2 separate regions of the Homo sapiens genome follow, and region 1 is linked to region 2. The links come from fine-mapping of genetic effects on gene expression. A gene starts in region 2. The other region holds a variant in brackets. All regions are shown on one strand. Distances are between the middles of the regions.

Region 1 (16,040 bases), 280 kb after region 2:
TGGAGCTGGATCCTCAGCCTTGCAAAGGAGAAAACAAATGAGGGGGGTTTGTGTGTTTTTAAATTTATTTTATTTTTTACAGACAGCGTCTCACTCTGTTGCTCAGGCTGGAATACAGGGCCGTGATCATAGCTCACTGCAGCCTTCAAACTCCTGGGCCCAAGCAATCCTCCCACCTCAGCCTCCCAAGGAGCTAGGACCACACACATGCGCCACCATGCCTGGCTAGTTTTAAAGTTTTTCATAGAGACAGGGTACCACTATGTTGCTCAGGCTGGTCTTGAACTCCTGGCCTCATGAACTCCTTGAACTCCTGGCGATCTTGCTGCCTTGACCTCCCAAAGTGCTGGGATTATAGGCATGAGCCACTGCGCCCAGCCAAAAGAGAGAACAAATGAGTGGGTTTGTGTAGCTCACCCAGAAATCGCCTGACCTGCTCCAGGTGGGAGGCATGCTGCAGGAAGAATGCCACCAGGACCTGCCCCCCTCACCCTCAGAGGACCCCTAGGCTCTCACCTTGCCTCTCTTCTTCCCTACAAAAAGTCAGGAGACTGGAAGCCCTGCTGTCTCCTCTAGCAGGCTTCTGGGATTCCCTTGGTGTGCCCCCAAATGAGACTGCCTCCAAAATGGGATCCTGATGCCACATCAAAGATGAGTAAGTTCAATCCTCACCCTCACCAAAAGCATATATGTGTGTGTGTGCACACATGTACATACACTCACCATCAACTGCCACCCCAAACCAATTAAATATGATCTGGGGACTAGGCACTTCTGTGGATTATCCCACTCAGTACTAGCCTTGATTAATGCAGATAATGGAGAGCTGACTGGATACAGCTTACAGTATTTAATCTTTCCCGGCATTGTATTTGCAGAAGCCAAAGTAATGAGATGGAAATAGGTTAACCAGCAAGACACCTGTCACCGAAGCTCACAGGCTAGAAAGATCAATACTTAAGGAGAAATATATGTCTTTATGTTTTGCACCAATGCTTCAGTCCAACATTTGGTCCTAGGAGGCTGAGGATAAAGTTTTAATGAATTAATTTTCTAGCTCATTCTGAAAATAAGTTACCCATTTCTTTGAGTTCCTTGTGTACCGAGGCCTGATGAGCCTTCTTGGTCAGTGCATGCACACCTCCACTTTGGAGCGAGGTTGTCATTCCGCACACGTAGAAGCAGAGTCTGTTCTTGACTGGCCCTGGGGAAGCTAACAACTCCCAGGTTCCTGAGAGTTGGAACGTCCTTCTAGTGTCTAACTTCAATCTCTCCTGCTGCAGCAACACTCATTTTCCTTCTCTTGATCTCGCTGAGATCAGCAATTCCAGGCCACCTGATGGGCGCCTCAGAATCCAATGGCTGAGGATTGAGCCCTTCCTGCACCAATCTTGGGCTGGCCTGTTAGCCTCCCTGCGCTTGTGCAGCTGTGTGTGGGGGTTAAGCATCCCTGCCCTGCCTGCCTTAAGGACAGCTTCCATGATCAAAGGTGAAGTTTCCTGAGTGAGGCTCTGTAAACCTGCAGCACCTCACACCTGCCTCGGATTATTTATTTCTCTCTGAACCTAGACCCCAGGCATGGATACCCTTAAATCACAGGCAAATATTAATAAAACCCAGCCTGTGAGGGCTGAGGGACTCTTACAGACAACGCAGTCCACAGCCTCTTTTCGAAAACAAAGAAACTGAGGCCCCAAAGGGAGGTGGCTTACCTCCATCACACAAACAACACCGCTAAATGGTGGCAGCCCTGCCTGAGTTGTCAACTCCTGGATTCCAGGCCTTTGTCGCCCCTCAGGCCACCCCACCAAGCCCTGGCTCCATTTGATCCTTGGCTAACTCTTGTAGGGTGCAGGGATAGTAGCAGTGGTGAGGGGGCAGAGGGATGCCCCCGCCAGGCAAGCCCCTCAGCACACCCTCCGCTCTGCCACCCCAGCCAGGATCACAACTTGAAACAGGACAGAGAAGCCCGCCATCCCCATGGGAGAGGAGCTGGAGTCCAGGCTCCCTGGAGAGGGAGTTAATACTGCAGCACGGCGCACTCTAGCCAAGACGGAGAAGCTGCTGAGTCACAGTCCAGCCGCCTGGCCAGCCCTGAGCTGCCTGCTGGGGCCCCCAGCTGCTCCCAGCCCAGGGGGCTGCCTCTGGCCCCCAGACAGGCTGCCTTCCCACCTCCTTCTCCAGAGACTCAGAATCTTGGGCCTCCAGGGTTCCCCACTCCCCAGCACCCCACAACATCTCCCAAACCCACAGGCAGCTGTCCTGGGGCGGAGGAGAGGGTCTTCCATTGGTTGGGTGTCAAGATGCTTGGGAGCAGGCCGGGAAGGGTGGGCGACCCGGAATGAGTGATTGAGTGGGGACAGATGGAGGCTTGGGGACCAGCGGGCCCTGGGCTGCCTGGTGTAGGATACGGAAAGTGTGTAGGGGGGGTGCACCCGTGGGCCCCAGGAGGTCTGTTGTGCGCATGCTCTGAGTGTGAGGGAGGACGGGTAGGACTGTGGGGGTCTGCCCTGGTCGTGCTCCCAAGAGAGGCACTGCTTTCTGCAGAGTGCGTGGGCAACTGCCAGCTGGGGGAGCGCTCACCAGGGGAAAGGGGAGCTCTCTGTGGCTTAGCAGTGATTAACCCACACAATCAATGGATCCTCCAGCCACAGTGTGAGCAGCTCTGCCTCATGTGAGGCACACAGCACCTTCCAGCACAGTCCCGATATCTTTCATGCCAGATGCACATCTTCAATTTCAGCTACAAACTGTTACAAATTGATGCATTTTCTTTCTGACTAAATGTTACAAGGTTTGAACACACTAGCTCTGCCGATCACCGCCCCTCTAAGGGATGGGTTTAGAGGTTTGGCACGAAAGCAAAAGCCTTTTAATAGGAGTGCGTGAGTGTGGTGGTGTGTGTGTGATGTGAGTGTGCATATGTGGCGTGTGCATGTATGTGGTGGGTAGGGGTATATGTGGTGGTATGTATGTGTAGGATGTGTGTGCTGTATGTGTAGTGTGTGTGATGTGGGCGCTAGGGTGTGGGGGACAGTGGGGTGTGTATATATGGTGTGTGTGTGATGTAGGGGGTGGTGTGGGTTAGGGGTGGAGGCTCTAGTGGGGTGTCAGGGGGTATGTGGGTAGTGGGTAGTGGCATATGTGTGGTGTGTACGTATGTGTGGTATGGGGGTATAGTGAGTTTGTGTGGGATGTGTGTGTAATACGTGTATGTGTTGTGGTCTGTTGTGTGTAGTGAGGTGTGTGTGGTGTATAGTAAGGTGTGTATGGTGTGTGTCTGTGTGGTGTGTAGTAGAGTGTGGATGTGTGTGGTGTGTGTGGTGTTTAGTAGTGTGTGTGGTGTGTGATGTGTGTGGTATCTGTGTGGTGTGTGTGGTGTCATAGAGTGTGTGTATGGCATGTAGCACAGTGTCTGGTGTGTAGTAGTGTGTGTGTGGTGTTTAGTAGTGTGTGTTGCGTGTAGTAGGGTGTGTGTGTGGTATGTAGTAGGGTGTGTGTGGCATGTAGTAGGGTGTGTGGTGTGTGTGTGGTGTGTGGTGTGTGTGTGGTGTGTATGGCATGTAGCATGGTGTGTGTGTGTGGTGTCTGGTCTGTAGTAGGGTGTGTGTGGTGTGTAGTAGGGTGTGTGGTGTGTGTGTGATGTGTGCCTGTGTGGTATGTGGCGTGTAGTAGGGTGTGTGGTGTGTGTCTGTGTGGTGTGTTTGTGTAGTGTGTGTGGTGTCTGTGTGTGGCATGTGTGGTGTGTGTAGTGTGGTGTGTGTCTTTGTGGTGTGGCATGTAGTAGGTTGTGTGTGTGGTGTGTGTGGTGTCTAGTAGGGTGTGTGGTGTGTAGTAGGGTGTGTGTGTGGTTTGTGTGTGGTATGTGTGTGGTGTGTGTGGTATGTGTGTCGTGTGTGTGGCGTGTAATAGGGTGTGTGGTGTGTCTGTGTGGTGTGTGTGTCGTGTGTGTGGCATGTAGTAGGGTGTGTGTGTGATGTTTGTGGTGTGTGCTGTGTCTGTGTGGTGTGTGTGTGGTGTGTGTGGCATGTAGTAGGGTGTGTGTGTGATGTTTGTGGTGTGTGCTGTGTCTGTGTGGTGTGTGTGTGGTGTGTGTGGCATGTAGTAGGGTGTGTGTGTGATGTTTGTGGTGTGTGGTGTGTGTGTGTAGTGTGTGTGGTGTGTAGTAGGGTGTGTGTGTGGCGTGGACTGGGAGTGTAAGGGGAGGGGGTGTTGCCAGTGTGCGGGGAGGGGGAAGGGGGCAGGGGCAGGAGCCCGGGCTGGGTGGCAGGTGCCCCCGTTCAAGCTGCAGGAGAGTAGCTGGAGAGACCGCGGCCTCCTCCCCAGCCCACTTCTTCCCTGCGGCCCGTTGAGGAGACCTAGCGGTGCCCCCTGCTGTCCGTCCAGGAGGCTGCCGCCTGCCTCCAGCCCCATCTCCACCCAAGCCAGGCCCACGCCCTCCGCACACAGCCGCACCCCCGCCAGGCTCCCTCCCAGGCCCCCAGTCAACGCTCACACCCTGGAAAGGAGGAGGTGGGCAACCGGTGGGAGGCCGGAGGCAGAAGGAGGCTCCATTAACTCAGTAATGGAGCAGAACATCAGCACTGTGGCATCTGCTAGCCGGCAGCACCGGGGAGGGGGTCCTGTCTCCATCTCTCAGGCCCAGCTGAAATGGGTGACAGCAGCCAGTGCAAGAACATAGCAGAGAATGCCAGAAAGGCTGTGTATGTGTATGTGTGTGCACGTGAACGCCATGTGTATGAACACCATGTATGAATGTATAAACATGCATGAACCAGCACTGTGAACACATATGCAAACATTGTGTGCAGGTGCATTACACTGCCATATGTAGAAATGTGAGAAGCTCCAGGGAAGGGAACGCTGGGGGTCTCGGGCCACACCACTTGTCCAGGAAGCTGGGGTGATAGCTACAGGCCCTGTACGTGGGTAATGGGAGGGGGTGGACTACGATGCGGGTCACCTTACAGCCTCGGGGTTGGAAGAGACCACAGGGTCACCAGCCCCCACCCTCCCTCTGCAGTGGCATCTCTTGCCAGACCCTCTGTCTCCAAAGGTGGCAAGAGGGCTGGGACCTGAAAGAGGCATCAAGAGACCTGGTTTCTCTTCACTTCTTTCCATCCTTTGGAAAGTGGCTTTGCATCTCCCAAGACAGCCTCTCAGCTTTTTTTTTTTTTTTTTTTTTTTTTTTTGAGACAGGGTCTCACTCTGTCACCCAGGCTGGAGAGCAGTGGCACAATCACAGCTCACTGCAGCCTCGACCCCCACGAGTAGCTGGGACTACAGGCGTACCACCATGCCCGGCTCTTTTTTGTAGAGAAGGGGTCTCACTATGTTGCCCAGGATGGTCTCAAACTCCTGGGCTCAAGCAATTCACCTGCCTCAGCCTCCCAAAGTCCTGAGATTACAGGCCTGAGCCACCGCATGCAGCCTAGATAGCCTCTCAGCTTTTAGAACCCAGCCTTCCGAGATGCTTGGAGAGTTCTACCTCTGAAGGCAAGCGGCAGAAAGGGTGGTGGGGTCATGAGAGAACGTGGGCTTTAGAACAGCCAGGGCTGCTTTCCAACCTGACACTTAGCAGCTCTGCAGCCCTGGGAGATGAGTTCATTTCCCTGGGATCATTTCTTAGCTACAAACCGAGGATCAGGTGCCTGTCTCACAGGGATGTTATGAGGATTGAAGAGGCCACATGTGCTGGCACAAAGTGGACCCTAAATACTCATTTCCTTTCCTCAGTTCTCCTCTCAGCGGGGCTAGGCTGAGTCCATGCTGACCACGAACTCAAGGACAGACCTTGTGTTACCCACAACGAGGGGTGCAGTGCTCGCCAAGTCAGGGACTCTGAGCCAGTCCAGGCTCTGTCCAGGAGGGCAAGGGTTGCTGCAGAGGTTGTGCGGCTGGGGAGCCTAAGGCCCAGAATTCTCTTCCCTGGCTCTGTGTGTTCCTCTTGCAGAGACTGCGTCACTTCTTCCTGGTGTCAAAGGTACTTGTATAAGCAGCTCAGCTCCCAGGGGACCACTAGGGCTGTGAGGTGGGAACGTGCCTTGTTTACGACTGCATTTCCTGCCAGCTCCCAGAGGAGCAGCCTGATTGCTGAGCCTGATAGCAGGAAATGGAGGAGGTGGGGGATCTCACCAGGAACTGCCCCCCAACTCTGGCAACCTCCGTCCCATCAAGCTCCCTGCTAAAGGAGAGAAGAGAAACCCCAAAGCCAAAAGAGGCACCCTGTCTAGGTCAGACCGTGACACCCAGGGCCTGAGTGGTCATGGGTGGGGTGTGGACGGGCAGGCGCACTGCCTTGCAGTGCTCCACTATAGGTAGGCAGGCCCATGGCTCCCCATGGGGAAAGGAGATCCAGTGCAGCTCAGGTTCTCTGGAGAGTAATGCGCAAAGGAAGGGCATGAAGACCACTTCCCTGGTTAATGAGGGTTTGACCAGGAGTTGTCTGCCTTACCCAAACTTGAAAATAACCCCTAGCATGTTTAATTGCTTAAAAATCCACTCTTTCATCTGATCTTCACTTTCGTTTCCTCCAAATCCTATGTCAGGCTCCATGCTAAGTGCTGGGAATACAAGATGAATAAAACCCAACCCCATCCTGAAGCAGCTCACAGGGAGACGACAGAGCTCAGGCCTTTGGGAGGTGCAGCAGATGTGGTTCTGCCCCTTGACAGAGGAGACAACTAAGGCTCTGAGATCAGCTTGCCCAGGGCCTCCCAGTGCACTTGAACCCTGACTTCCCAGCACCCAGCCCAGGGCTCTTTCCTTCCCAACAAAGAGCCCCAGGGAGCTCCTCAAGCACACTGGGAAGGTGGGTCTAACGGGAAGATCACAAAGGCACCGGGCTCAGAGGTGGGTGCCGGGGGCAGGGAGGGAGACCTCCACTGTGCCCACTCCGTGCCAGCGGCATATTTCATTTCATCCGGGCCTTGTGAGGTGGGGACTGTGATTCCCATTTTGTAATTGAGGAAACTGGGCCTCAGGGGGAGCGAAACAGGTCACTCGCTCAAGCACCCTTCCCCAGAGGATGGAAAGAGCTGTACTCCCAGGTAGCAGAGCAGCTCGCTTTGGGCCACACCAGGACCTGGGAGAGGTCATGAGATGTCTGGGGAGCCCAGCCTGCTCTCAGTGGGAGCTGGGAGCCAGCATCCCAGGCAGGGAGCCAGCCAAAGAAGGTGCAGTCTGGTCCTCCCGTTTCCAAGAGCGCCTCCATCCTTCCAGGTGCTGGCCAGGCCCCAGGGACAGAGACGTGCCCATCACTCTTCAGACAGAGATGCCCATTATCACCAACACCTATGACAGCTCATGGTCTCCAGAAACTAAAGTGGAGCATGCAAGTCCCGGGGGCACAATTAGGTGCTCCAAAGAAGCCAGCTCTCTCCTGCCTGACCGGGGGCCGGGACAGACATGGGAGATAGGGGCCAGGAGGGATGAACCATGGCCTCAAAACACCCATGGGCTGGAGGAGGGGAGCAGTGAGGGGGAGAATTCCAAATTGGAAAGCCTCAACTTGGAATTCTATGTGGATCCAAACCTAGAAGACAGCTCCGCTGAGGAAGAGGAGCCAAGTGAAACACCAGGTGCTGCCAAGTGGGGTGAATGAGCACCTGGGCTCTGGGCAGACTGACCTGGACTGGAGTCTCGGCTCTTTTAGCCATGGGAACTTGAACAGGTTGCTTAACCTCTCTGGGCCTCAGCACTCCGTCTGCAAAATGGGAATGATAATGGAAGCTGCTGCGCAGGGCTGCGAGGCTTAGGAGCACTGTATGTAAAGCATGGTATTATGGCCATGGCCGGTTCCTGAGCCAGGCTGGGCACGGGCCTGTCAGAAGCACACAGGGATGGCTCCAGTGGAGAGGTGGGGCAGCCTCTCTGCTAACTCCCTATTAAGGACCAGGTTAAGCCAATACCCTTTTTTTAAATTATTATTTTCTGAGATAATTCAGGCCTCTCTTAATAAATGGTCCTCCTTCTACCCATGCCTTTAGCTCCAGCCCAGATGGCCTTCTTGATGCCCACCTCTGGGCCAAGGCCTCTCTTGAGCCATTGCACTATCCCTGGCTTCTTTCCTGCCCCTGTGTCCAGATACTGCCAAGGCTTTCCCCCTCCTCCAGCCCACCTTCCCCAATACTCAGGCCTCTCAGCAGCCATGGCTTCTCCAACAGTGGCTGCTAAGTCTCTATTTTGGTTGCTCAAGCTTTCAAGTTCTCATTTGTGGGTATCAAGTTCTCATTTGTGGGTATCTGACCACATCCTCCTCTCAGAAGTCAGCAGA[G/A]TCTAGCTGTTCTTCCTCTAGCTGCCACTCCCATCCTATAGATGACAACACTGGGATGTGAAGAGGTGAGGTTGCCCAGACTCCCCAAGGGTGTCCCAGCCAAAACCTATCCCTAGTGTGGTGGCTCACACCTGTAATCCCGGCACTTTGGGAGGTTGAGGCCAGCCTGGGCAGCACAGTGAAACCCCATCTCTACAAAAAATTTTAAAATTAGCCAGGCATGGTAGTGCATGCCTGTCGTCCCAGCTACTCAGGAGGCTGAGGTGGGAGAATCACTGGAGCCCAGGAGTTTGACATTAGGTAAGACCTAGCCATGCCAGCGGACCAGCCAAGCGGCCATACCCAGCAGGCAGCTGGTGGGGGGGGGGGGGTGGTACGGCAGGTGTGTTGCTCAGAAGTGACTCTGGAAGTCACTAGCACAAAAGGATAATCCACTGGGGAGAGTGTGGGCATAAGAAGAAATCCAGAGATGGGCTTCTAGAAATATCAGCATTTGGAGGATTTGTAGAGAAAGAAGAAAGCCAGGGAGATTGAGAAATGACCAGGAATGGGAGGAAAGCTCCGAAGAACAGAAAATGACTCCATGGCAATAGAGCAGTTACACTGGAGGGGCAGGCAGGGGCTGGGAGGGGACAGGGATCCTTCTGGGGAATTTCTTTGGTGATTACACTGGTGCATATATCCATAAGTTGTGCACTTTGCTGAATCTAAGTTATAACTACATCAAAAAGAAAAACGAATGTGCAGAGCAGAAAGAGCTGGGGGCTGACCCCTGGCTCCCACACACTCTGGCTTGACCAGGTGCTGGAGGACACATGGGGAGAGGGAACACAGACCCCAATAGAGCGCCGTGCATCCCATCGCCAACCGGCTTTCCCATGATGCACAGGCGCTTCTGCTGAGAACCACAGGGCAAAGGCACCTAGAACCAGGGAGCCACTGAGGAAAGGCTTCCTGGAAGAGCAGCAGGGAGCCAAGGTTTAGGAGGAGATGGGGTGGGCTTGGAAGAGGCTGGCCACTTTCCAGGCAAGAGACGTCCACCTGGGTGGGTGTCTGACAAACCACAGACCATGATGGGACCCCTCACAGCCACCACCCTGGAAAGTGCAGTGATGACAGCTGACTTGGGAAGGTGATGACACAGCCGAACACACCCCTGGCTCCAGAGACGCCATCATCTGGGACCCTCTCCTCAGAGCCTGACCTAGGGCAGGAGAGCCTCCCTGGTCCAGGACACCAGAGGCCTCAAGGTTTTCCCTCACAGGAGCGGAAGCATCTTTCCACACCCCGGGCCCCAGGAAACATTTGAGAATGGGCCGTTGCCCTGCCTAGCAGTACACAGGGCTCTGGCCTCCCTGCTCTGGGCCAGAGGAGAGGTGGAATGGAAGTGGGCAGAGGACTGTCCCCTTCATATGACCACTGGTGACAAACACTGTGTCCTGCAGAACACAGCCCAGGATGAAGCACCTCCACCCACACACACGGCATTCGGCAGCTGCAGGGCCCAGCCCTGCACCATTTCTGAAGGTCCACACATAGCACATATCACAGCCGAGGAAACTGACAGCCAGAGAGAGGAAGGGACTTGTCCAAAGTGGCAGAGTAAGGAGCCTGCCTCCCAATCCAGTGCTCTTCCAAGCTGGCAAAATCCTGAGCCTCGGAGAGGCTTAATGAGCTGCCTGCCTACCAAAGCCAGCATGGGTGAGCATCTGTGGCTCTCTGGAACCGCAGGGAGTTCCAGTTCACCCTACAGATGACCCCTGCTTGGAGCTGTGACTATAAATGGAATACCTGGGGTGGCTCCTATCAGACCCTGACTCCCTGGAGCTGGCAACAGAGAACCGGCATGTAATGGTCCCCGTAAACACAGCTAGCCTGCATCAGGGTTTCTAATGTTCTGCTGCAGGTTCACTTTGCACTTGAGAAACAGGAACGACTTAAGTTTTTTTCTAGCAGCTTCTTGGCTCTTCCCAGCGGCCCCTCCCCCAAGCAAAGTCCCCTGAGAGGAAAAAAATCACACCACATCTTTGTGGATCAGCGGTGCCTCTGCCCCCACCCAAGACACCAGGCATGGTTCCTCATGAAGAGTGACTTGCGGCTCCTTCACAGCACCGAGGGCTGGAGCCAGAAGATGGATGAACCCACTGCGGGGGTCTCCTCTCTTCATGTGGGAGAATAGATTTAGGCTCAAAATGAAGGAGGGTTTTTGCACAGTCAGCACCACCCATTGATGAGTTCATGGTCCCAGGAGGTAATGAGGGCTCCATCATTGGGAGCATTCAAGCTGAGGTTAGCCCACTATTGGGAGGGGTGTTATAGACAGGACTCAGGTAAGGGGACACAGCGCTGACCTAGATGAAATTTGAGGTCTCCCTTCCAACCCTGAGAGCCTCTAAATCTCTGACATCTCCATCCCAGCCCTTGCTGCTGATTGGCCTCATTCGCCAGGCCCTGCTGGTTCGCCAGGCAGTTTGTCCTCAAGGAGAAGTAGCTGCCAATTATGTGAGGACCACAAGAGCTTCCTTTATGACACTGCCACTCTGCAGGAAGGGGCTGAGGTGGGGTAAGAGGGGAGAAACAAGACAGAAGGTGGCACCAGAGAAGGAGCCAGCTCCCCAGGGCCTGGAATCTGCAGTGTTGCCACCACTAGATAATTTGTGGGGCACATTGCTGTGGGGGTCTCAGGAAGCCAAGTCTGGGCCCAGAAGGGAAATAGCCCAGTTCTGGCCTCCTGACTGGGGTGGGGGACTGTCAAGGGAAAAATAAGCCCAACCTAGCTCTCTGAGGCTCATTAGAGAAAAAGGTAAATGTTGAAGACGTGTCATGGCAGGCAGCTCATTAAGCCCACGGAGCTTAAAAATAGTGAGACACGCAGATATTGGGGGATGGGGAGCTGGGGATGAGACTCCGGCTCATCACACTACAGGCAAGAACAGCAAACCTGGGAGAAACTGACTCTATAACCAGTGGAAGAAAGGCTGCGTAGCCATCGCCGGATCTCTAGGTAAGCTTGGCGCACAGGCCTGCTGGAAATGTCAGACCCTGTTCTGTCGATGAGAAGACTAAGCCCAGAGGAGGGTGTTCCCAGGCATTACCCAACAGGCTCGACTCTTCTCCAAGCAGGGGAAAAGAGAAGACACAGAGACACAGACCTGCCCCGGAGGAATCCAGAGCCCACCTGCCCAGAGAGGCTCCTCCTGATTTCCCTGGCTCTGGGCACCCCCTTAAAAGCCCTTTATGCCATCTTTCCTTTCAGTCAAATGATGCAGGATTTGGGACCAGACAGCCTTTGCTCAAATCCTTCCACTGTTACCTACCAGCTTGGTGGCCTTGGAGAAGTTATTTCCCTGTTCTGGATGTGCTTCCTCTTCTATAAACTAGAGACGCTACAAATTCCCACCACAGAGGGGTAAATGCACCATCCTGTATGTTATGTGTTTGGCACAGGACCTGGGATGCAGGAGGCACTCTGACCGGTGGCATCCAGGAAGTAAGGAATATGGACTAAAGGGAGGGCCAAGGAAAAGTTTACAGGATGTGGCTGTGCAGTTGGAAGATGCAGACGCGCCTCGCTTGGTGCTGCCAGGTTAGATTTGCAGAATGCAGTGAATGCTCTTGCTGACAAAGGATGGGGAAAAGTGAACTGGGGAATCATGACCTAGGGGAAGCCACTAGCTCAAATACTGATCCCTATTTAAGTCACCAAAATATGCTGGGCACCCACTGGGTGCCCAGCTCTTTCCCATAAGTGATCCCAAACCAGGAGCTAGGCCAAGCCTCCAAAGACGGCTGGGTAGTTCATTGGAATGAGGGCTGCAGTGACTCCAGAGGAGCAGGACTCAAGAGAAGGAGAGCCAGGGAAGACTGAGGGGATGTGTAGGTGAGGTGGCTTTTTTCTGGCTGAGAGAATAGAAGGTCTCCAGCCCACACCAAGGGCTCCATAATGGAAGGGAGGCCTAGGGTGGGTCCTCCCCTCTCCCCATCTTCATCCCACTCAGCCCCTACCTGGCCTTTAACACACTGGGTGGGAGAAGTGTTGCTGAGCACAGCAGTGACCTGAGGCCCTGGGCACCCATCCCAGCTTAGCTCCCTAGGGGGCTCCAGTTGCTGAGGAAGAACATAGAACTTATATAGGATGGGAGAGCTGGAAGGAAACTTAGGATCAATTGTTACAGCCTCTAACTGAATGGTGAGAGGCCAGTGAGAGAGCCAGAGCTAGAATCCAGGGCCCTTTCCATGATATTGCACCTCCCATCTCAGCCCTGTCTCTTATGAAATGCCATATTGAAGCTTTATGTATTGGGGAAATTTAACTGAGGCTCAAAGGGACACAAATTCCCTAAAGCCACATGGTGAGTCAGACAGCGAAATGCAAGGTTTCTGGTCCTTTCCCAGCATCCAACAAACATTTCTTGGGCACCTACTACAGTCAGGCTGGGAGCACTTTCAGACATTCTCTCACTTAAATCTCACATGTGGGAGCAAGGTGGTGGAAGAGCAAAGGGCCAGAGGCCAGGGTCCAAATCCTGGCTCTCTTAGCTGAGTCTCCTTGGACAAATCCCTTGATGTCCCTCAAATGATGCCTCCATTTCTTCACTTTATAATAAGGGGATTCATAATAGTACCTACCTTGTAGAGTATTGTGATAATTAAAGGAGACTATCCATATGAAATACTTAGAACAGAGCCTAGTAATATAAATATACCATTTAAAAATAAGTATACTGGCCGGGAGAGGTGGGTCACACCTGTAATTCCAGCACTTTGGGAGGCCGAGGCGGGTGGATCACCCGATGTCAGGAGTTCGAGACCAGCCTGACCAACATGGAGAAACCCCATCTGTACTAAAAATACAAAATTAGCTGGGCGTGGTGGCGCATGCCTGTAATCCCAGCTACTTGGGAGGCTGAGGCAGCAGAATTGCTTGAACCCGAGATTGTGCCATTGCACTCCAGCCTGGGCAACAAGAGTGAAACTCCATCTCAAAAAAAAAAAAAGTATACCATTTGACAATCCTAGGCATATACCCGAGAGAAATGAAAACACATATCCTTACGAAAACCCTTCCACAAATGTTGATAGCAGCATTATTCAGAGTAGCTGAAAAGTGGAATCAACCAAACATCCATCAACTGATGAATGGAGAAATAAAACGCAGTATATCTACACAATGGAATGTTATTTGGCAATAAAAAGAAATAAAGTATCGATACATGCTTCAATGTGGCTAAACCTTGAAAGCATTATGTGAGTGAAGGAAGCCAGTCACCAAAGACCATGTATTATATAATTCCATCTAAATCAAATATCCAGAAGGTGCAACTTCATAGAGACAGAAAGTAGATGATTAGTTGGCTAAGGCTGGGAGGAATGGAAGAATCGAGGGTGACTGTTAATATGTATGGAGTTCCTTTTCAGGGGTGAAAAAATGTTCTGAAATTAGATCGTGGTATGGTTGTGCAGTTCTGTGAATATATTAAAAACTATTGAATTGTGCGCTTAAATGGGTGAATTGTATCGTATGTGAATTATAGCTCAATAAAGCTGTTTTCAAAAAGTAAATATATATTTATAAACTTCTATAAATAAGATAGTAAATCATATCCATTCCAATTTAATGATAAGGCTCAGAGCGAGTCAGCAACTTGCCCAAAGTCCCATGGCTAGGAGGCCGCAGAACCTGATTTTGGACTTTGTGTTGTCGAACTCCTGAAGCTCCTAAGACCTGATCCAGCCCACACTCATGGAAAGCAGGTCTGCCCTTATGTATCTTGGGGAAAGCCTCCATTCCCTGTCCCAATGAGGCCACTCAGGAAGTTCTCCCCGCTCTCTAATCCAAACCCATAGAACTTACAAGGGATGATGTTGAGGGGGATTTGATGTCAGGAGCAGGGTCACGGGAGACAGGCACCAGAAGGGAAACCTACATTTCTAGCCAATGCTGGATATCTTCTTTAGGGAAGCCTGGGGAATGGGGCAGAAGAAACATAGTGGACTTCAAGACATGAGCTCACAGTTGATTTTGGGGGTGACCTTGGCCAAGAAACCTCATCTCTGGGGCTCTTGGTAAAATGATATTCAGGAAGAAGCTCTGAGGACAGCTCCAGAAGCAGACATTTCTAAGGCCATTTCTAAAGTGGCCCTCCCTCTCCTTACGTACAACTCACCCCAGATGACCAGGTGGGAAGTCTGTAGGACAGTGGGCATCACTTGGTTGCTTGCTTGGGTATACACAGCCTGGTCACCCCCATGGTTCTTGGCAGAAGATATTGGGGGCCAAACCATGAGGCCCTAACCTAACCATCAATGCAATACTATGAGCAGATCAGGTTGGCTCTCCCTCCCAGCCAGGAAGGAGGCAAGAGGAGGAAGCGACAAGGGCACTAACAACCAGGGTCCTTGTCTTACCTGGCAGGAAAGATGCTGAATGTGATATTGACTCAATGTGCTGCTTCTGATCAGCCCCCTGCCTGCCTCCCTGCACTGTGGATAGTCTGGCTGCAAGTGGTAGGGGGAAGGAGCTCCCAGTTTTGACAACCCAGGGAAGGCATCACCTCAGTCTGTCTGGGGCTCATGGCCAGGGTGTCCCAGCTTGAAGGAGAGGTTCTCCTGCCCCCTTCTCTGCTTGTACAACTACAGACTGCATTCAGAAACACTCCTTCTCTCTTGCTAAGGAGCATTAGGAGATACAAAACCACCATCCTTTTTCCAGGTGAAATAAGGAACAGAAAATGAGGAGGGCCAGATTCAGCCCAGAGCCACCCAGAGTCCAAGTGGCCTCACTGGGAGAGCAGTCCACTGGGTTTGGTGCCCTTGGTAGAAAGCCCAACATGCCAGGACCTCAGCCAGAAAGCCAGCATGTGCTCCAGAGCAGGGAGAGGGAGAGGCCAACCTGTGCATCCGCTAGGCTCACTGGCTATTTCAAATCATCGTCTGCCTCATTTGATCCCAGGACATCTTGGGAGAAGTGAGAAAGACAGGCATCCCTCTCCACATTTTTTAATGGGGACCACTGAGGTCCAAGAGATAGGGAAAAACCGCTTGCCTGGGGCCATGTGCAGTAACTTAATAGTGGGTTCACTGGATTCTAGGTTCTTCTCATCAAAGCCAATCATATCCCTGCCTCGCCCCACTCCCAGCTCTGCTGCTATGTTTCTTTATCTACAAAACGTCAGTTTTCAGAAACACCATAATAACACTCTTTATATTACTTTATAGCAAAATCTTTACAGCACCGTTGTGTCAGGCACTGCCTATTCTTAGAGCTATATGTAAATAGTCATACATTAAATCCTCATGCCAACCTGATGGCAAGCTATTTCATTTCCATTTTACAGATGAGGAAACTGAGGTAACAAGTGTTTAAGTAACTTAGCCAAAGTCCCACAGATAAAAAACTGGAGGAGCTGGCATTTGAATACAGGCAACCTAGCCCTAGCATCTGAGGTTTAACCACTGCACCACAGTGCCAAGCACATGCAAGTACAAGGCTCCTCATATCCCAAGTCTCACTAAAACATGGACTAGGGGCTGGGCATGGTGGTTCACGCCTGTAATCCCAGCACTTTTTGGAGGCTGAGGTAGGAGGATTGCTTGAGCCCCAGGAGTTCGAGCCCAGCCTGGGCAACATGGTGAAACCCTGCCTCTACCAAAACAACAACAACAACAAAGAAAAACCTCCCAAAACAAAAATTATCCAGGCATGGTGGTGCACACCTGTAGTCCCAGCTATGTGGGATGCTGAGGTGGGAGGATCACCTGAGCC
Region 2 (16,040 bases):
CCAGTTTGCTGTTGGGGGTTTGCATTTATTGTTAGCATTTACTCAGCATTTAGTGAAGTGTTTTCTGTCATAATTGAGTTCCTGCTTATTTTACTACTGATGTTTTGTTTTAGTCCTTTCAATACCTGTCTTTATTTTCTTCCTGCCCCAATTGTAATTGTATCTCAATTACAGTTCTGTCTTCAGAACTGAAATTGATTACTTCCTTGGGTGGTTCTCTGAGAAATAGGTCTTAAAAATGTCTCTTAAAAAAGCAAGAACTGTATTGAGTCCGGTGGAAAAGAGAGATGGTTTGATAAAATAAGTAAATCCCTATAATTTTGGCAACAGAGAGGAAAGAAAAAAGGATAGAAGACAAAAGAGGAAGGAAGAAAAGGAGGTAGAGAGGGAGGAAGAAAACAAAGAGAAAGAAAAAAAAGAACCCCATACACTAAATGTACAGTTTCCATTTGTCCACCAGAGGGGGTATGTTAACTGGTGGGAATAGAGGCCAGGCTAAAAGATTTTCATAAACTTTTTACAGGTGTCATTGTTTTTAAAAATGGAGCATTCTAATGTTATAATTTATTTTTAAATTATAGCTATGAAAATTATTATTTTATGAAGGTTTCTTCACTTTACAACACATCATAGCAGGCTCACTTAGTACTTATAAAAGTATAAAAATTGTATTTTATTTTTATACAGTAGTATTTGTCAGGATTTACTCACTAGTATATGAAAATATATCTTATTTATTTTTATTTTTTATTTTTTATTTTTTTGAGACAGGGTGTCACTCTGTCGCTCACTGCAACCTCCGCCTCCTGGGTTCAAGCGCTTCTCCTGCCTCAGCCTGCCTAGTAGCTGGGACTTCCGGCGCCCACCACCATGCCCGGCTAATTTTTGTATTTATAGTAGAGACGGGGTTTCACCATGTTGGCCAGGCTTATATTTTCTTTAGAATAGCATACTTATAGCCAGGTGCAGTGGGTCATGCCTGTAATCCCAACATCTGGGGAGGCCTAGGTGGGCAGATCGCTTGAGCCCAGGACTTTGAGACCAGCCTGGGTAACATGGCAAAACCTCATCTCTACCAAAAAATACAAAAATTACCCAGGCATGGTGGTGCATGCCTGTAGTCCCAGCTACTTGGGAGGCTGAGGTAAGAGGATCACTTGAGCCCAGGAGGTTAAGGCTGCAGTGAGCTGTGATTGCACCACTGCAAATCTAAAGTGAGATCCTGTCTCAAAAATAAATAATAAATAAATAATAAAGGAATGGAGTACTTATTTAGGAAATTTAAATTACCATACTTGTTTAATGAGCTGATTGTGTAAGTTATTCTCAGAAAGCCCTAGTTGGGAAACATGTTTTAGAAAAAATAGGATTTCAATTTGAAAAAACTTTTCAAGTCATTAGAGGTAGATGAATGTTTTCATGGCATTTTTTTTGGCTGAGCCTGTAAAATTAATTAGATTATAATAATTATTACTACTTTCAATAATCATATAGCCAGAAGGTATATTCCTCTATCTCCAAGTAGATATGCACTTAAATGATCCAAGGAATTTAACTACTTACACTTTTCTGTAAAATCTCCAAAGAAGGTATTACACTCTTACTTCCACAGGAAAAAAAAGAAAAGAAGCAAATAAAATAGGTATGGTAAGGAAGTACTTCTGGCTTCCTGGAACTTCCTTATATTGAGACTGAATTCTTGGCTGGGCGCGGTGGATCACGCCTGTAATCCCAGCACTTTGGGAGGCCAAGGTGGGTTGATCACAAGGTCAGGAGTTCGAGACCAACCTGGCCAATATGGTGAAGCCCTATCTCTACTAAAAATACAAAAATTAGCCGGGCGTGGTGGTGGGTGCCTATAGTCCCAGCTTCTCAAGGAGAATTGCTTGAACCCAGGAGGCAGAGGTTGCAGTGAGCTGAGATCGCACCACTGCACTCCAGCCTGGAGACTCCGTTTCAAAAAAAAAGAAAAAGAGACTGAATTTGTGTTGAAATTTAAGCTCAGGCTGGGCATGGTGGCTCACACCTAAAATCTCAGTACTTTGGGAGGCTGAGGTGGGAGGACTGCTTGAGGCCAGGAGTTCAAGACCAGCCTGGGCAAAATAGCAAGACCCGTCTCTACTTAAAAATAAAATAAAATAAAATAATTTTATGTGCCTATAGTCCCAGCTACTCAGGAGGTAGAGGGAGGAGAATTGCTTGAGCCCAGGAGTTTGAGCCTGCAGTGAGTTATGTTGGCACCATTGCACTCTACCCTGGGTAACTCTGTCTCCAAAAAAGAAAGAAAGAAATTTAAGTTCATATCTCTTGGGAAAGTAAGGATTTAACCTGGAGTGGGTCAATTTTAGCTTATTTAAACAACTGGAACCAGATATTTTTTGCTTCCTAATTCGGAATACAAAAATAATGCAGCCAAAAGAAGCATCATTATTGATCCCTGAAAAATTTACTCCAGTTTAAAAATCCTTATTAGAAGACCAGTATGCCAGTAAAACATAAAGTTATATATATATATATATATATATAGGAGCAGCTATCATATACGAGGAACATAATATTGAAATGATGCATGAGGACTGTAAATAGGATTAGGCTTCTAGCTGAGTATTCTTACCTATTTGATTTAATATCAATTTTTCTTTTATCCTTTAGGGAGAGTTCTATTTGGGAGCTTGTGGGCAATAGTAATTATCAGCAAGAGGCTGAATTGGAATAAGAGGAGGTCCCACTGTGATATGTTACAAAGTAAATCTCATGAATAATTTTTTTTTTTTTTTTTGAGAAAATCTTGCTCTGTCACCCAGGCTGGAGTACAGTGGCATAATCTCGGCTCACTGCAACCTCTGCCTCCCAGGCTTAAGCGATTTTCCTGCCTCAGCCTCCTGAGTAGTTGGGATTACAGGCACCTGCCACTGTGCCTGGCTAATTTTTGTATTTTTAATAGAGATGGGGTTTCACCATGTTAGGGTGGTCTCGAACTCCTGACCTTAAGTGATCTGCCCGCCTTGGCCTTCCAAAATGCTGGGATTACAAGCGTGAGCCATCGCGTCTGGCCAAGAATTTTTAATTGCAATAAATGATGAGACATGACAAGTTCTATGGTGGCCATAAATAAATGCATGTAGCAAGGAAAATGAGGTTACATAATGTATACATTATTATACCTTGATTTTCCTTATGTACATTGTTATTGATAGTACACAGATTTGACATGAGGTTTAATTAGTATTTATAATGTATTTAAGAATATCCTACTAAAGCATATGGTGTTTAGACACAGTATTATTAAACATAATATTTTTTACATTTATATGTCACTTTTCATTTGAGGCTTTCAATTCAATAATTAATTGTTTCCTTAATGTATGATTTCCACTTCATTTCAGGGGAAATTGAGGAACAGGCAAATTTTCACATGACAGAATATAATAAAGTTTCCCTTTACAATACCCCAATCATTTTGCAACATTTTTTAAATGAAAAATTTTAAACATACAGAAACGTTTAAAGAATCTAACATTTGCATATGTACTCTTTCATTATGGGTAACACATTTAATTGTATTTTGTTCAGGGCTAGAGCACTGGAGGTTATACTTATTAAATCAATCGGACTGGCCGGATGCGGTGGCTCATGCCTGTAATACCAACACTTTGGGAGACTGAGGTGGGTGGAACACTTGAGCCCAGGAGCTCAAGACTAGCCTGAGCAACATGGCAAAACCCTGTCTCTACAAAAAATACAAAAGTTAGCCAGGCATAGTGACACAGGCCTGTAGTCCCAGCTACTTGGGGGGCTGAGGTGGGAGGATCGCTTCAGCCTGGGAGGTTGAGGCTACAGTGATCCACGACCATGCCACTGCCCTCCAGCCTGGGTGACAGAGCGAGACCCTGTCTCAAACAAAACAAAACAAAACAAAACAATCGGACAGATACATGTTTTATAACCCAGTCTTGGTGAATATAAAAATGTTCTATTTGCTACCTTAGGAATTTAGTATGATTTAGTATGCTTGATAGTATCTTTCTCTAGCTTTGAAAAAAAAAATCATGGGACAGGTACAGTGGCTCAGGGCTGTAATACCAACACTTTGGGAGGCTGAGGCAGGAGGATCGCTTGTGTCTAAGAGTTCCAGACCAGCCTGGGCAACATGGTGAGACCTTGTCTCTACAAAAAAATAAAAAAATAGTGGGTGTGGTGGTGGGCACCTGTAGTCCTAGCTACTGGGGAGACTGAGGTGGGAGGATCGCTTGAGCCCAGGAGGTTGAGTCTGCAGTGAGCCGTGATTGCGCCATTGCACTCAGCCTGGGTGACAGAGTGAGACTCTGTCTCAAAAGAAAAGAAATAAAAATCATGGAAGACATCTATTCTGTCTTGTAAAAATTTAAGGTATATGAAAAGAGTAGAGGAGGAGGAGGAGGGAGAAGGAAGAGAAATTATTTATTGGGATCCAATATGTGCCAAAGATAGTATTAGGCATCCTTGCATGTATTATTTCATTTGATCCACATGACTACCCTGTGAGATGTTATTCCCATTTTACACATAAGAAAACTGGCTAAGAGAAGTCAAGTAATTTGTCTGCGGCTGTGAATTCAATTTAAATTCACAGCTTAAACTCTTTTCACTACATCTGAATGCATCATTTTCAAGATCTTTTCTGGGCCTGGAGTAAGTTGACAGTATTTATGTAAAACATGTAATACTGTATCTGTATGTATGCTCCTCTTCCCCACGCTCATTCACATTTACCGTGATTAATACACATGTTAATAAAACCCTAGACTTAGAACTAGGATATAGAATCCAGTCGTTTAGGTACTTAATGTTTAGTTCTCTCCTCCAGAAAACAGGAATAATTACCGCCTTTTTTCCACTCCAAAGAATTGATGTGATAATTAGGGAGATAAGATTAGTTACTAGTCATAACAAGAATAAACTACAACTCCCAAAATGCCCAGAGGAAGAGGCTGACGCCAGTCCAGGAGACAGTTCCAGCTTTAGGGCAAAGGTGACCCCACTGGGTCCCGTGGCGAAAGAGAGAGCCGCCGGTCCTCGCCTTTTTTCTGATGCATCCAGGGATTTGTAGTTCCCTTACGGCCACCAAGTGCACTTAGGGCAGGCCTCTTACTACGAGTCCCGTGATGACCCGAGGCCGGGCAGCGCCTGCGTATTGAAGCCGAGGGAGCGTGCGGGCGGTACTACTGGCGGGAGGAGTAAAGATGGCGGCGCGAGGGTCTCCGCCCTCTGCTCCGGGCTGAAGCGCTCTGAGAGAGGCGGCAGCGGCAACTCGAGCCCCAACAGTAATTTAGTGTTGGTAGTTTTGGCAGCAGCTGCCGAGGCCGGAGCAATGGCGGAACTGGAGCACCTAGGAGGGAAGCGGGCAGAGTCGGCGCGAATGCGGCGGGCAGAGCAGCTTCGGCGCTGGCGGGGCTCGCTGACAGAGCAGGAGCCTGCGGAGCGACGAGGCGCGGGGCGGCAGCCGCTGACCAGGCGCGGGAGCCCCAGGGTCCGCTTCGAGGACGGTGCTGTCTTTCTGGCCGCCTGCTCTAGCGGGGACACCGACGAGGTGAGAAAGCTTCTGGCAAGAGGTGCTGATATCAACACGGTCAACGTGGACGGCTTGACAGCCCTGCACCAGGTAACTCCTTTCTTGGTCTTAGAGGCGTCCAGTCTCCTACAGATGAGCCTTTGACCCTGCGAGCCACCCCATGGGGAGTATCAGTGTTGCCGCCGACTCCTTCTGCATGGACACTGCCCTTTTGGGCTAATCGGTTTCATTCTTGGCCAGCTTCCTCCACTAATCAAGTCTTTTTCTGACCCCAGGGTCTTAGGAATAGCGTCACCCCGCTGCTTGGTCAGTGTTTGTATTTCCCTCCACCTACTTGTGTTGTCATGGTTACTGGTGATTTTTGTCCCTGGTCTTATCCCTGTAGATTAGTTATCTTCACTTATGTCTGGTTGGCGTGCCTGCACACCGCGTCACTCATAGGCACAGTGTCATTTGTTTGATGCCCTTTCAGAAAATTCAGTTGTTGTGTGTCCCCGTTATAGAATATCTTATATCACTTAAAGAGTAAAGCCCTTTACTGGGTAAAGACAAGCAGGTCTGAAACCACACCTCTTGTTTTGTTGATTTGTAGTACTTCAAAACAGTTTGTGTTGCCTCTAGGCTACAGCTCCTAGAACACGCTGGACCTCGTTGTTTTAGGTATCTTAACTTCCTTCTCAGCAGTGCTACCTCCCTGAGAGCTTCCTATGGAGAACTAAGTTACTGAATTACCTCTGTTTGATACTTATGGAATAGCTTTTCTATTTTTCTATTTTTTTTTCTAAAGTGCTCTATAGAAATCCCATGCCCCATGTATAGCTATACTATATGGATTGTGGATAATCTGTGCTTGGTAACGACACCTTTACTTCTGTCACCTAATGCAGCAATATTCTCTGTCTACTGACTGCCATGACTAACTACCCCTCTCTCCTCAAATGGAACTTCATCAGTTATTTTGGTGAGCTGAGAGCCGGACACCCACTCTTAATCTTTTGTATTTTTCTTCTTCTGCCGTCTGTGCAAAGTGAATGTATTGGCATGAGAATCTACTTCTAAATAATAACTCAACTTTATATCAGACCACTTCCCTAAATATATTTAGCCAATAGCTTAAAAAGTTACTTCTCACTATGTTTGCAACCCTTCTATTTCAGGTAGAAGAAACTCTTTCACCCTATTTTGTACCCATTTTTTTTTCCTGCTGATAATATTTCCCCACCTGAGGTAGTAACCAATATTTGTAGAGTGCTTTGCTGTTTGATTTCATATGTCTTACCCCATGTGAGTTTCAGCAGTGATCCTTTGAAGTAGGTGTGGCAGGTAGTGTTGTTATTCTCATTTTACAGATGAGGAAACTGAAGCTCAGGAAAATTATTTGTGCAAAGTTAGAAAGTAAAGAAGTGGCCCATAGGCATGGATTTTTCAGACTTATGTCACAGAGATCTCTATCTCACTTAATAAGGAGCTGAATGTAAAATGAGATAAAAGCTAAGAGAACCACATTAAATTCTAAACTTTAAATTTCTGAACTCTTTGGGAAGGTGAATTCTTGTTTTTCTTTTTCTTTTTCTTTTTTTTTTTTTGATTCAGAGTCTCGCTCTGTTGCCCAGGCTGGAGTGCAATGGCGAGATCTTGGCTCACTGCAACCTCTGCCTCTTGGTTTCAAGCGATTCTCCTGCCTCAGCCTCCCGAGTAGCTGGGATTACAGGCGCCTGCCACCACGCCTAGATAATATTTGTATTTTTAGTAGAGATGGGCTTTCACCATGATGACCAGGCTGGTCTCAAACTCCTGACCTCAGGAGATCCACCCTCCTTGGCCTCCCAAACTGCTGGGATTATAGGCATGAGCCGCTGTGCCTGGCCTAGTAATCTATTGAAATAAGAGAAGAAGGGGATGACAGCTATGGATTTTTTTTTAACATCTATAAATGCAATATAAGCATTCCTTTCCATTTATAGGGCTGACAAGGAGTTGAACTGAACAAGTATACTCGATTCTAGACAAATTCAGCTAAAAATTAAGCTGCTTAAAGATTTGAGGTCTGTTGAGAAACTGTATCTTTGAATCAAGACAACGGGCCTTTATTGGCTTCAGAACATTACAAGTCAGTTTCCGAAGAGTTACAATGTGTGTCTCCATGACTTGGAGAAGTTTTTGTTGTTGTTGTTGTTGTTGTTGTTGTTTAAAAAAAAAAAAAACAGTGTCTCACTGTATCTCCCAGGCTGGAGTACAGTGGTGCAGTCTCAGCTCACTGCATGCAACCTCCGTCTCCCAAGTTCAAGCTATTCTCATGCATCAGCCTCCCAAGTAGCTGGAACTATAGGTGCCCACCACCATGCCCAGCTAATTTTTGTATTTTTAGTAGGGATGGGGTTTCGCCATGTTGGCCAGGCTGGTCTCAAACTCTTGGCCTCAAATGATCTGCCTGCCTCGGCCTCCCAAAGTGCTGGGATTACAGGCATGAGCCACCGCGCATGGCCGACCTGGAGAACTCCTAAGGTACATAAAAGACTATTTTCAAATGGGAGACTGGAGCTGTTGGTAGCTGAACCACCTACTTTACAATGGATTCACCTTCTGTGAAATGGAGAGTGAGTGGTACAATTATCTGAATTATTTATTTAAAATGTCCATTTGTTATACAAGCACGATATAAATTATCTGGATAATTGCTTCTTTTCTCTCTTTTGGCCATGGCCACTTGACCAACTGTGGATTATTGTCTTGGCATGTTAGAAGCCCCCAGATAATACTGGGGGACAATTTTTCTCCTCCTACAACGTCACAGTAGATGATTTGCACTGCAGCTTGTGGTGCCTTGATGCTTCTTTTGGACTTAGAGACCTTCTTTCTTGGCAGCCTTTGCTGAGACCACGAGGTGCTTGAGTCAAAGATAACAAGCTCCAGGGGGCCTATTAATAATACTTGAGTTAGACTGGGATAAGAAGTATCTCAAAGGTTAGACCAACTCTGATGAAAGCCTTGGAAACTGATGCAGACTAAATTTCAGTGACTAAATTAAGATTTGGTGTGTATGCATGTGTTGTCCTAGAGTCCTTAACAAGGTATTAATCTGATTATAGAACCCTTGAAAGCACTTGTTTGCTCACAAAGGAATTTCTGTTTCATTTGCGTATACACATTGTAAGGCCAGGAATATTTGTTAATAATTCTATGTGGAATAGTACTTTAAATTTTTTCTTTTATTTATTTATTAAGTTTGACTGTTAGCACCTATCTTGATATCCTTAGCATTATAATCTTAGGTACTCTAGGCCTAGATACATGATATCTACCAAATTATTGCTGTGGGAAGAGGCAAGTGCCTACTTTCAGAAAAGAGATTTTTCTAGGATTTATTAAAATGAATGCTTACTTACTTCAGCATGTATTATGTTGACTCTTAAATCTGTGCTGAGTGTGGTGAGGGATGCTGGATTTCAGTCACCATAGGTCTTGTCTCTTAGCACGGTCTGATCAGTCTTCATCTGGAGGGCTACCAAGGAGATTAGAATAATTCCATACTTGACTCAGAAATTCACACTGGCGGCCGGGGGTGGTGGCTCACGCTTGTAATCCCACCACTTTGGGAGGCTGAGGCAGGTGGATCACGAGGTCAGGAGTTCGAGACCAGCCTGGTCAACATTGCAAAATCCCGTCTCTACTAAAAATACAAAAATTAGCCTGGTGTGGTGGTGCACACCTGTAGTCCCAGTTACTCGGGGAGGCTGAGGCAGGAGAATCGCTTGAACCCAGGAGGTGGAGGTTACAGTGAGCTGAGATCACACCACTGCACTCCAGCCTGGGTAAAAGAGTGAGACTCCGTTTCAAAAAAAAAAGAAAAAAGAAATTCAGACTGTCTTTGTAATGTGCAGGGTCCAAATTTGGACCCTCAAGGTCACACCAGACTGGAATTCAGTTTGTAGTTGAATAAGCCTTTGTCATTCTAGAGTTGCCTCAGTCTGACGCTGTAGACTTAGGGAGGCTAAAATCACGTATTTCTCAGGAAGAGAGATGGAGATAGGAACAAGTGAGGGGAGGAGGATAGGCTGAGCAATTTATATTCAGACAGAGACAGAAGATGAGTAAGATGAATGTGTGTTCAGTTCAATATAAAATAGTATATTTTGTGTGCTAACTCATATGGTAAAATAAAACTTGTGCTTTTAACCTTTTCTCTTTTATTCTACATTTATTACTCATTCCTCTCCTGGTTCCACCTGCGAAGTTACTTTTGCCTTACCCTGAATATTGATGAATTCTGCTTAGTGTCAGGACCCATGGCAACATAGGATTCAGAAAAATCCTGTTTGCTCCTTTATTATTGTGCATCTAGAATAGTCATCTATCCTGAGCCATTTTAGTAGCTTACCTCTTCAAATTGCTTAATATGTTGCATCAGACTATGTTGGACCTCAAAGCCATATTGGGAAATTCAGCTTTTTGTCTGTGTGGTTTTTTTTTTTGAAAGTATAAATAAAAATGACTTTCATTTGTTCCGCAGAATTTCTTCCCTATTCTTCTTCTTTGTGTGTGTGTGTGTGTGTGTGTGTGTGTGTGTGTGTGTGTGTGACAGGGTCTTGCCCTGTTACCCAGACTGGAGTGTGGTGGTGTGACCATGGATCACTGCAGCTGCAACCTCTCAGGCTCAAGTGATCCTCCCCACCTCAGCCTCCTTAGTAACTGGGACTACAGGCACACCCCATCATACCCAGCTAATTTTTAAAATTTTTTGTAGACAAGGGGGTCTCACTATGTTGCCAGGGCTGATCTTGAACTCCTGGGCTAAAACAATCCTCCCCCCTCGGCCTCCCAAAGTGCTCGGATTACAAGTAGGAGCCACTATGCCTGGCCTCTCCCCAATTCTTCAACTCCTGCTGAATAACTGTATATCACCATTTGGGCTTTTAGAATCTTCTACTCTGTGAGTATTTTGAAATAGGCAACCTGTCAATATATATGGATTAAGCACAATTCTGCCAAAGGTAAGGAGTTGGACCAGTCTTGTTGTTAACATAAAACTAAGTAGTTTATTTTTTTCTTTTAAAATATTTTAAAACTAAGATATACTTTATATACAATAAAATTCACTCTTTGTAGTGTAGCATCGTATGAGTTTTGACAAATGCGTACAGTTGTGGAACCACCACTGTAATCAAGATGTAGAACGTTACCCTCAAGATTTTTTGTGCTCCTTGGTAGACAGCTCCTCCCACCCTCAGCCCATGACAGTCATTCATCAGTTATTTTGTCCCAATAATCACAATAGATGGAGGCTGAGGCAGGAGGATCACTTGAGCTCAGGAGTTTGAGACCAGCGTGGGCAACATAGCAAAACCTTGTCTTTACAAAAAAATAAAATTAGCCAGGCATGTTGGTGCATGTCTGTAGTTGCAGCTACTTGGGAGGCTGAGGCGGGAGGATAGCTTGAGTCCAGGAACTGGAGTTGCAGTGAGCCATGATCGTGCCACTGCATTCCAGCCTGGATGACAGAGTGACACCCTGTGTCTATAAACAAACAAGAGCCACCATGCCTGGCCTAGAGTAAAGTTTTTGATATTTGAATAATATGCCATTAATTACATGTGTCCCATTCTTTTTTTTTTTTGAGACAGAGTCTCGCTCTGTCAGCCAGGCTGGAGTGCAGTGCACGATCTCGACTCACTGCAACCTCTGCGTCCCGGGCTCAAGCAATTCTCCTGCCGTAGCCTCCTGAGTAGCTGGGATTACAGGGGGGTGACACCACGCCTGGCTAATTGTTTTTTTTGTTGTTGTTTTTTTTTTTGAGACGGAGTCTTGCTCCGTCGCCCAGGCTGGAGTGCAGTGGTGTGATCTCAGCTCACTGCAAGCTCTGCCTCCCGGGTTCACGCCATTCTCCTGCCTCAGCCTCCCGAGTAGCTGGGACCGCAGGTGCCTGCCACCATGCGCAGCTAATTTTTTTTGTATTTTTAGTAGAGACGGGGTTTTGGGCGGGTGGATCACGAGGTCAGGAGATCGAGACCATCCTAGCTAATTTTTGTATTTTTAGTAGAGACGGGGTTTCACCATGTTGGCCAGGCTGGTCTTGAACTCTTGACCTCAGGTAATCCACCCGCCTCAGCCTCCCAAAGTGCTGGGATTATAGGCGTGAGCCACCATGCCTGGCCGTGTTCCACTATATTTTTCTCTTTAGAGGTTTTCTTAGATTCTTAATTAACAACTAATATTGAATGTCTAAATGGTAGATTGTAAGTCTGTACTAGAGTATATATGTGGTATAATTTCTGCCCTCAAGGAACTAACAGTCAGGTTTGGAAACAGATAAATAAAAAAAAGATTCCTTTTAGAGTTCCAAATTCTATGATACCCTGGAAAGGATGTATTCCTAAGTGGAAGGACAAACGAAGGCAGTCCAGGATGGTAGAGCAGCATGGGCGAATAAATAGGAATGGGTGTGGTGTGTAGGCAGAGGATGCTAGGAAATCCTAATGGATGTGTTTGAAGGGTTAGAGATGAGAGAGAGTCAGGGTGACATCCTAGAGGGCTTTGAACATCAAACATCAGGCCAAGGTGGCTTGATGGACTCCTTAGTAGAGAATTTTTGTGGGTTTGAGCAGGGTCGTTACCCAACCAAAGCAGTATTTTAGGATTCTGAAGCAGCACTTGGATTTCTGAATGAATGGAGAGACAGAGTTGAGAGAACCAGCTGAGTGAATGGAGATGAGAAAAAAGTGTAGTACAATTCTAGCTTGTGAGTCTGAAAGAATTGTGTTATTCAGGTAGAAATAGTATTCAGTCAACGATTAGACTGAGGTACTCTGAAGACGTACAAATAGAAATCTCCTATAGGTGTTTAGCATGGTGGCCCATATCTGTAATCCCAGCACTTTGGGAGGCCAAGGCGGGAGGATTGCTGGAGACCAGGAGTTTGAGACCAGCCTGAGCAATGTGGTGAGACCCTATCTCTCCAACCCCCTCCCCACCCAAAAAAAAATTAGCCAGGTATGGTGGTGCAAACATGTGGTCCCAGTTACATAGGAGGCTGAGGTGGAAGGATCACTTGAGCCCAGGAGGTTGAAGCTGCAGTGAGCTGTGTTCACACCACTGCACTCCAGCCTGGGTGACAGAGCAGAGCAAGACTGTGTCTCAAATAAATAAGTAAGTAAGTAAGTAAATATCCTGTAGGTATCTATGTGACTCAAGGCTAGTCACTTTCCTATCTATGCTCCAGTTTTCTCATATTTGAGACAAGAGACTTGATTTTAGCATAAAGGTGAGAGTTGAAGTAATGAGTGTGAAAGAGGAAAGGGAGAAAACATACAGAGAAGAGCAGAAAACACAAGCAGCTGGTAGGCAGAGAATGCAGAAATTCAAGTTAGAGCTGTTGGAAGATGTGGTAGGCTGACTAATGGTGCCCCAAAAATGTCTAAGTCCTAATCCCCAGAACATGTAAATATGTTACCTTACAGGGTAAAAGAGACTTTGGGGATATGATTAATTTAAGGATCTTGAGATAAGGAGATTAGCCTGGATTATCCAGGTGAGCCCAATATAATCACAAGCATCCATATAAGACAGGCAAGAGAGCAGAATCAGAATAGGAGATGTGATGAAGGAAGCAAGAGATTGCAGGGATTCCAGGAAGGTTCTGTGAGCCAAGGAATGCAGGTGGACCCTAGAAGCTGAAAAAGGCAAGGAAGTGGATTCTTCTCTCAGAGCCTCCACATAAGGAACCAGCCCTGCCAGCAATTTGACAACTCAGCCCAATGAGACTGATTTCAGACTTTTTTTTTTTTTTTTTGAGACTGAATTTTGCTCTTGACCCCTAGGCTGGAGTGCAGTGGCACAATCTTGGCTCACTACAACCTCCGCTGCCCGGGATCAAGCGATTCTCCTGCCTCAGCCTCCTTATTAGCTGGGATTACAGGCGCCCACCACCACAACCAGCTAATTTTTGTATTTTTAGTAGAGACGTGGTTTTGCCTTGTTGGCCAGGCTGGTCTCAAACTCCTGACTTCAGGTGATCCACCCGCCTTGGCCTCCCAAGGATTACAGGTGTGAGCCACTGGGGATTACAGTTGTGAGCCACTGCATCTGGCCATGATTCAGACTTCTGACCTCCAGAATGCTATGATAATAAATTTGTGTTGTTTTAAGCAACTAAGTTTATGGTAATTTGTTATAGCAGCAATAGGAAACTAATACAGAGAAGAACCGACAAACAGTGATATTGAGGTATTTCAAGGAATGGATGGTAAATAATGTAAAAGGAAATTGAGGAGAAGGCCTGTAAAAAGACTGTTGGATTTGGTCATTTAAACTTTGAAAGAGCACTTTCAGTAGAGATATTTTTGAAGACTTTTGTGGAGGTTATATGAAGTTTTTTTTTGCATTAAGGATAACTTGTCTTTCTGTTGACTTTTGGGAGAAAAAATATAGATTTTCCATCAATATAATTGTAATTTAAATGAGGGCCCAAAATATGTGGCAAGACACTTTAAAAGCTGAATTCTGGCTAGTTCAGGTGGTTTCATTATTCATCAGTTAAGAATATTTTAGGATATTAAACCTGATAATAGGGGCAAGAAAGTTATGTCCCTATTACTGATGGCTGCTTATCTAGTTTATTTTACTTCTCAGTCTAGTTTGGCCCATTTCCCACTCATTAGCACTTCCACTGGAAGGCAGCCTTGGGGGAACAGTGATAGGGAGGTTAGTACCAATAAACAGTTTTTTCTGCCATTCTCTTACATTTATTTCTTGAGTGTCTACTGTGTATCTGATTCTGTGCTGCTTGTTACTTTTACTTAGCAGTAGATACAATTTAGAAACTAACTTGAATTTTGGGATTGGTCTCCAGAATAGTTGGTTACTATTATAACTTATAATAGGAAATTGGCTACATAACCGATTTCTGTTCTAGCATTCTGGCTCTTGAGGAGTGTCAGGGGAGTACTATATTTATCAGTATTTGAGACTATTTTATGCTTATGGAGGAGAATTACATATATATCTTCTCTAAGATGGTGAAATATGGAGGTTTGGGATGTCTAATAAATCTTTAATGGTTCAACATAGTAATAATAAATCCAGATTAAGACCTTGGCCCAGAATGTCATATAGGACAAGGAATTGAAGCCTCATTTGGATTGCTAATTGAGTGCTTGCCCAATTTGTTGATGTTGTTTTTGTCTGTGAATATGTTGGGGTTTTTCCTGCTTTTGAAGTGTCATTTAAAAAAATTGTTTCTTCTGATCTTAGATTGTAACCAGTTTGAGTAAAATTTGGGGGCTTAAAGTTTTATCAGGCATGCAGAGTTTATGTTTGTTTCATGAGGCAATTCAATTGAAAAACTGAAGCTTTGCCCAGGCGCGGTGGCTCACGCCTGTAATCCCAGCACTTTGGGAGGCCAAGGCAGGCAGATCACGAGGTCAGGAGATTGAGACCATCCTGGCTAACACGGTGAAACCCTGTCTCTACTAAATATACAAAAAATTAGCCGGGCGTGGTCGCACGCGCCTGTTGTCCCAGCTACTCGGGAGACTGAGGCAGGAGAATCACTTGAACCCGGGAGGTGGAGGTTGCAGTGAGCCAAGGTGGCACCACTGCACTCCAGCCTGGGTGACAGAGCGAGACTCCGTCTCAAAAAAAAAAAAAAAAACTGAAACTTGAGTTTTCAGTATTGGAAATTGACTTGCATGTGGTTTTTAATGAAATATTCTACTTCATTATAGTTATGGAATAGGTTTATACAAAAATTTAGAGATGATTTTATATTTAGTATACTTAAATGTTATGACACAGTGATAATCTGTTAGAATATTAATCTAATGCAAATTTGGGGAATATTTTATGGTGCCATGCTCTAAATATTCATGATATATCTGGCATGATATATGTATCTGGTTTTTCTGTATTAATTATTGGTCTAGTGACTCTCTTTTAAGCATTTTATTATGGAATATTTCAAAATAGAAGATACAAAAGTAGAGAGAATGGTATAATGAATTCTCAAAAGTGATCAACTTATGGCCAATCTTGTTTCATTTATAGATCCTCATCTCCAGTATACTGGATTATTTTATAGCCAATCCTAGATATCACATAATTTTTTTTTTTCTTTTGAGATGGAATTTCACTCTTGTTGCCCAGGCTGGAGTGCAGTGGTGCGATCTTGGCCCACTGCAACCTCCACCTCCCAGGGTGTCTCAGCCTCCCAAGTAGCTGGGATTAGAGGCATGTGCCCCCACGCCCGGCTAATTTTGTATTTTTAGTAGAGACAGGATTTCACATGTTGGCCAGGCTGGTCTCAAATGAACTCCTGACCTCAGGTGATCCACCTGCCTCAGCCTCCCAAAGTTTTGGGATTACAGTCATGAGCCACCGTGCCCAGCTTATATTTTATTTGTAAATATTTCGATATATATCTCTAGAACGTAGAAATTTAAATTAAAAAAAAATCAGCTGGGCGTGGTGGCTCATGCCTATAATCCTAGCACTGGGA

Evidence for each region. PIP is the estimated chance that this variant, and not a neighbour inherited with it, causes the effect.
Region 1: its variant is fine-mapped to the expression of PPP1R12B in whole blood (TOPMed, PIP 0.98).

What each region holds. Positions count from the first base shown.
Region 1 is chr1:202,621,235-202,637,274 of GRCh38, forward strand. All of the region lies in intron 1 of SYT2 (synaptotagmin 2), which reads right to left. Among named protein-coding and RNA genes, the nearest start is that of SYT2, 81 kb to the right of the region's middle. RefSeq lists an enhancer at 1,480-2,104 and a silencer at 4,215-4,294. The variant G/A (reference allele first, on the strand shown) is at 8,276.
Region 2 is chr1:202,343,502-202,359,541 of GRCh38, forward strand. It overlaps PPP1R12B (protein phosphatase 1 regulatory subunit 12B), which reads left to right and starts at 5,198. Exons shown (of 24, transcript NM_002481.4): 1 at 5,198-5,641. The coding sequence starts at 5,351. RefSeq lists enhancers at 4,945-5,485, 5,157-5,466, 15,385-16,040.